Regions from separate parts of the Homo sapiens genome. Here region 1 is linked to region 2. Evidence: fine-mapped expression QTL. A gene starts in region 2. The other region holds a variant in brackets. All regions are shown on one strand. Distances are from middle to middle.

Region 1 (2,921 bases), 21 kb after region 2:
ATGTAAGAAACCTTTACAAAAAACCCTTTAGTTCATGTAATTAGTATCTTTAGAGAGAAGCAAGAAGATATAATACCTATAAATTAAGAATGGAATTATATTTAAAAACTAGAGAACAAAAAAAGAGCTTTTGGGAATTCAAATATGTTTACAGAAATTAAAACTTCAACAGAGGGATTGGAAAATCAAGTTGAGGAAATCTCTTCTGAATGTAGAATAAAAAATTAGGTAAGCAACTGAAGAAAATACATAAGAGGCTTAGAAATTATTTCAGTAGGAATTCCCAAAAGAATGGCAACTAAAAAGGTGAAAAAATTATCAAAGAAATAAAAGTCTCTCAGACTGAAAAACATCATCAGAAGAAATTTAATCCACACTAAGCACTTTTTCATAAAATTTCAAAACATTAAGAATAAAAACGAGGTCCTTAAAGTCTCCAGAGATAAGGAATAGGTCACCCACCCACAAAATAACAAGAAGCATAACAGCTTCAGATTAATCAAGAACAAACTGGATGCTAAAGGAAAATTAAGAAATACCTTCAGCCAGGCCTGGTGGTGTATGCCTGTAGTCCCAGCTGCTGGGGAGGCTAGGGTGGAAGGATCACTTAAGCCCATGAGTTTGAGGCTGCAGTGATCTATGATTACACCACTGCACTTCAGCCTGCATAACAGAGTGAGACCCTATCTAGAGAGAGAGAGAGAGAGAGAGAGAAAGAAGGAAAGAGAAAGAAAGAGAGAAAGAAAAGCAATAAAGAAAGAGAAAGGAAGGAAGGAAAGGAAAAGAAAGAAGAAAGAAAGAAAGAGAGAGAGAAAGAAAGAAAGAGAGAAAAAGAGAAAAATAAAAGAGTGAGGGAATAATATAACGACTCCCATTGACCTGTTTTTCAGATGGTTTCCTCAAATATCTAAAGATCCCTGGATAAACATTCATGTGTAAGATGCTGTGAGGATTGAAAAAAGCAAGGATGGTTACTCTCATTACTCCTATTCAACAACATACTGGAATTCTCAGCCAGTTAATTAAGGTAATAAAAAGAAATAAAAGGTGTATTAGTCCATTTTCATATTGCTGTGAAGAAATACCCAAGACTGGGTAATTTATAAAGAAAGAGAGGTTTAAAAGTCCACGCATAGTGGCTCATGCCTGTAATTGCGACATTTTGGGAGGCTGAGATGGGTGGATTATTTGAAGTCAGGAGTTCAAGACCAGCCGCGCCACCATGGTGAAACCCCGTCTCTACTAAAATTACAACAATTAGCCAGGTGTGGTGGCA[A/T]ACACCTGTAATCCCAGCTACTCGGGAGGCTGAGGCAGGAGAATCTCTTGAACCCAGGAGGCGGAGGTTGCGGTGAACTGAGATCACGCCACTGCACTCCCGCCTGGGTGACAGAGTGATACTCCGTCTCAAACAAATAAATAAGTAAGTAAAAATTAAACTAAATAAATAAAAGTTTGGCCGGGCACGGTGGCTCACACCTATAATCCCAGCACTTTGGGAGGCCAAGGCGGGCAGATCACTTGAGGCCAGGAGTTCAAGACCAGTTCATAATGACAAGACTCTACTACAAGTACAAAAATTAGCTGAATGTGATGGCACACACCTGTACCTGTAATTCCAGCTACATGGGAGGCTGAGGCAGTAGAATTGCTTGAACTCGGGGGGCGGAAATGCAGTGAGCCGAGATCGCGCCACTGCACTCCAGCCTGGGTGACACAGTGAGACTATGTCTCAAAAAACAAACAAACAAACAAACACCCCCCCCACACATACTTAAAAATATTAAAATACTGACAATACCAAGTGCTTACTAGGATGAGAAGCAACTAGAACTCTGACATTGCTGGTGGGATTACAAAATGATATTGCCACTCTGGAAAACAGTTTGGCAGTCTTATAAAGTTAAATACACTTTATAATATGACAACAATTCTTAGGTATTTACCCTAGAAAACTTAAAAGCTTATATTCGCACCAAAACCTGTAAATAAATAGTTGTAATGGCTCCATTTATAATTTCCAAAACAACAATAAACAACTGGAAACAACCCCATGTCCTTCAGTGGTAAATAGATAAACCTAACATTCCTCAGTGAGAAAAAGCAATGAACTGTTGATACATGCAACCACTTAGATGAATCTCAAAGGCATTATTGAATGAAAGAAGTTAGTCCTAAAATGTTACATGCTGTATGATTCCATTGATATGACATTCTCAAAAAGACAAGCCTATAGTGATAGAGAACAGATGTGTGGTTGCCAAGACTTAGGGATGGGAAGGACAGTGTGATTACAAAGGGGTAGCATGAGGGAGTTTTCGGAGGTAATGAAACTCTTCTGTATCTTGTGGTGCTTACCTAAATCAACGTGTGTTAAAATTCATAAAACTGTGACCAGTCACGGTAGCTTACATCTGTAATCCTAGCACTTTGGGAGGCCAAGGCAGGAGGATTGCTGGAGTCCAGGAGTTTGAGACCAGCCTGGACAACATACTGAGACCCTGTCTCTACCAAAATTTAAAAAACTGTTTTCATTAGCCAGGTGTGGTGGCAGCCTCCCAGTGACTTGGGAGGCTGAGGTGGGATGATCGCTTGAGCCTGGGAGGTCAAGGCTGCAGTGAGCTGTGATCATTCTACTGCACTCCAGTGACAGAGCAAGACCTCATCTCAAAAAAAAAAAATTATAAAATTGTCTACAAAGTCAACTTTACTGAATGTTAATTCAAAATTAAAATGAAAACATAAAGCTGTAAAGGCAAAGATATTTTCAGATATGCCAGGTTTTAAAAATTTACCTCCCACACACCCTTTCTCCAAAAGCTACTGAAAGATGTGCTTTTGTGACGGCATGATGAAGAGAATAAAGAAGGAAAACACGGGATCCAGACGTGAGAATCAACACAAAAGGAAAATGATGGAAACTT
Region 2 (2,921 bases):
AGTAAGCATTTATTGTTGTAATAGCAGTAATTGTCATCGTAGTAAACATTTTTTGAATGCTTACTATGTGATAGACACTATACTAAATATTTTGCTGGCATTATCTTTTTTAATTCTCACATATTATTCCCATGTTTATAAGTATAGTAAGTACCATAAATTATCTCCACTTTACAGATAAGTAAACTGTGGCTTGAATAGGTTAACTAATTTCTCCCAGATCACATGGAGAAGAAGAAGCAGAGCTGGGATTCTGAGCCAGGTCTGATTGACCCAGAATTTGCACTCCTAATGACTATTCTCCTCTTACCTGCTCTCCTCTAAGAAGATTCAGCTTCAGCCAAACTTATCTCTTCTTCGGTCCCTCAGGTCTCAGTGCCTTCATCCAGTCAGTGCCGCATCTGAATTGCTTTTCTGTCCTGTTCACCTGTCTGAATTCTACCCTTCCTTCAAGGTTCAAGAGTAATTAGCTCTTCCATAATGTTGCTATGCCTTGGTATTTTTTCATGAGGATGGCTCTGTTCCTCACATGTGTTGTAATTTCAGTGCAAATCCAATATGTTAAGTATTACACAGTACGTGGTACACACAGACCCTTTCTCATAGTTGGTTCCCAAAAGAATGTGTGATTGCTTAATGGAGGACAGGGTGCTGGGATGGGCCAGACTGCCGTGAGAGCTGGGAAGAAAGAGAGAGTAGCCACTGGATAGAATGCAGTTTATAGGACCTCAAAGAGAATCCAAGAATCCTAATTCCCAGCATCACCAGATTTACAATCCTAGAAGCATCATCTTAGCATGGCCCGATTCTTTCCACAAACCCATCAGAATCTTTGCAAATGCTTCCTCCCCCTACATGCATAGAAAATAGATTTAGAGGGATTCTAGACAAGAAAGAAAATAGACATAGGGAGGGACATGGATCTGTATGGGGAAAGGGGAGGATTCTAGACCTCTTCTGTTGTTACTCAATCTTCTCTCCCATCTGTCTTTGCTCTTAGAAAATCAGCCCACACAGGACTAGGAGAGACGAGGGGAGAAGGAATAAGTGGGTTCCCAAAATGGGGTAGAATCTAGTCTGTTGTCATCCAGGGAGCATTAACAGGTATTGTTAAACACAAGATTTAAGAAAAGAGAGGATAAGATGGAGGGACAGCAATAAAGAAGGGAAGAAAATCTGGAGTGAGTGAGAGAAGCAGGCAGGAGAAGGGGGAAGATGGAGGAAGATGAGACTTAAAAAGGAACAGTAGAGGGTGGAAAGTGTCAGAGCAAGACCTGTTTGTGTTTTCTCCTAGGTGTGGGAAGAAGCTGTAGTATGTATGTGGGAGGCGGGGGAGATAACAGTGTATGTCTATATTCCGCTCTCCCTCCCACCCTCTGTTCTAAATTCCACCCAGCACATAAGCCAATACAGACAAAAGTCTTAATGTTAGATAAAATCAATGTTTCCCAAATCCCGTTCCCCTTGCATTAATGCCTGATGACTTCCCCCATGCCTTCCCTCCACCCCATGCTTGTCTCACGATAGGCTTTGTCGTGCTGATTTGTCCATGGGAAGGACAATGAGGCCATCACCTTCCTCCAGCCCACAGTGGCCAAGAGGACTTAGAGCCTCCCATCTCCCAGGTCACTCTTCTCCTGTAGCTCCATTCTTCTCCTGGCCTCTCTCAGACAAGGAACACATATGGGATTGGCCTTAAGGAAAGGGAAATTCCTTGGGGAGTAAAACTTAGGCTTAATTCATAAGATAAAGCCTGGCTCAGGCTGCTAAGGGCAAATGAGCAATGGGAGTTATTAAAAAGTATGTGAGATGTTGCATCAGATGCACATAATTATTGGGAGACTGTCTTGGGGCCAACATTTCAGAGTTACTGATCAAAGGACCAAGATGAAGAAGGATAAGAACCCTAAAGAGACGTGAATTCCCAGGGAGGTTTACAAGAACCAAATCCCTCAGCACCATGGGCAGTGCAAGGCCTCCACCCTCTCCTATCACCACTGTAGTTGGAAAAGTGAGTTATGTCCTAGGACACAGTCCAGGTCACCCCCTCTATAAACTCCAAAGCCTTTTTCATATGTACAGTCATTAAGGTACCATCTCTTATCCCAATCTCTGATCTGCTCTTCTCTCAGCCAAAGTGAACTCTCAATGTAAATTGGCTAAGTTCATCCTCAAGATATAATTCAACTACCATAAGCTTCACAATTATTAAATGATTTTAACCATTCAGTGGTTTTTAGTATATTCACAAACTTGTGTAACCATCACCACTACCTAATTCCAGAACATTTTCTTCGTTCTGAAAAGAAATCTCATATCCTTTAGCAGTCACTGCCCATTCTGTTCTCTCCTCAGTCTCTGGAAACCACTAATCTACTTTTTGTCTCTGGATTTGCCTGTTCTGGACATTTCCTAAAAATTGAATCATATAACACACATATGATGATATATGGCTTTTGTGTCCTGCTTCTTTCACTTATGTTTTTAAGTTTCATCTGTACTGTAGCATGTACCAGTACTAGTCATGTACCAGTCATTCCTTTTTATGACTGGATAATATTACATCATATGGATATACCACTTTTGTAAATCAGTCAGTCAGCTCTCGGACATTTGAGTTCTTTCCACTTTTTAGCTATTATGAATAAAGCTGCTAGGAATATTCATGTATAGGATTTTGTGTGGATGTATTCTTTCATTTTTCTTTGGTATATAGCTAGATGTGGAATTGCTGGATTTTATAGCAACTGTGCCTAATCTTTTGAGGAATAACCATCTTACTTAGAATAGTGAGAGTGAAGTGGCATCTCATAATTTTCGCATTTGTATTTATAAAGAATATGGTCTGTAGTTCTTTTCTTGTATCTTTGTCTGGCTTTGGTATCAAGATAATGCTGGCCTCATAGAATGTGTTAAAAAGT

Evidence for each region. PIP is the estimated chance that this variant, and not a neighbour inherited with it, causes the effect. A credible set is the group of variants that fine-mapping cannot tell apart.
Region 1: its variant is the best candidate, but not a certain one, in a credible set for the expression of OR4D1 in T cells (TOPMed, PIP 0.56).

The regions. Positions count from the first base shown.
Region 1 is chr17:58,125,879-58,128,799 of GRCh38, reverse strand. No RefSeq gene overlaps it. Among named protein-coding and RNA genes, the nearest start is that of OR4D1, 21 kb to the left of the region's middle. The variant A/T (reference allele first, on the strand shown) is at 1,277.
Region 2 is chr17:58,147,186-58,150,106 of GRCh38, reverse strand. It overlaps OR4D1 (olfactory receptor family 4 subfamily D member 1), which reads right to left and starts at 1,723. Exons shown (of 4, transcript NM_001386095.1): 1 at 1,523-1,723; 2 at 311-678.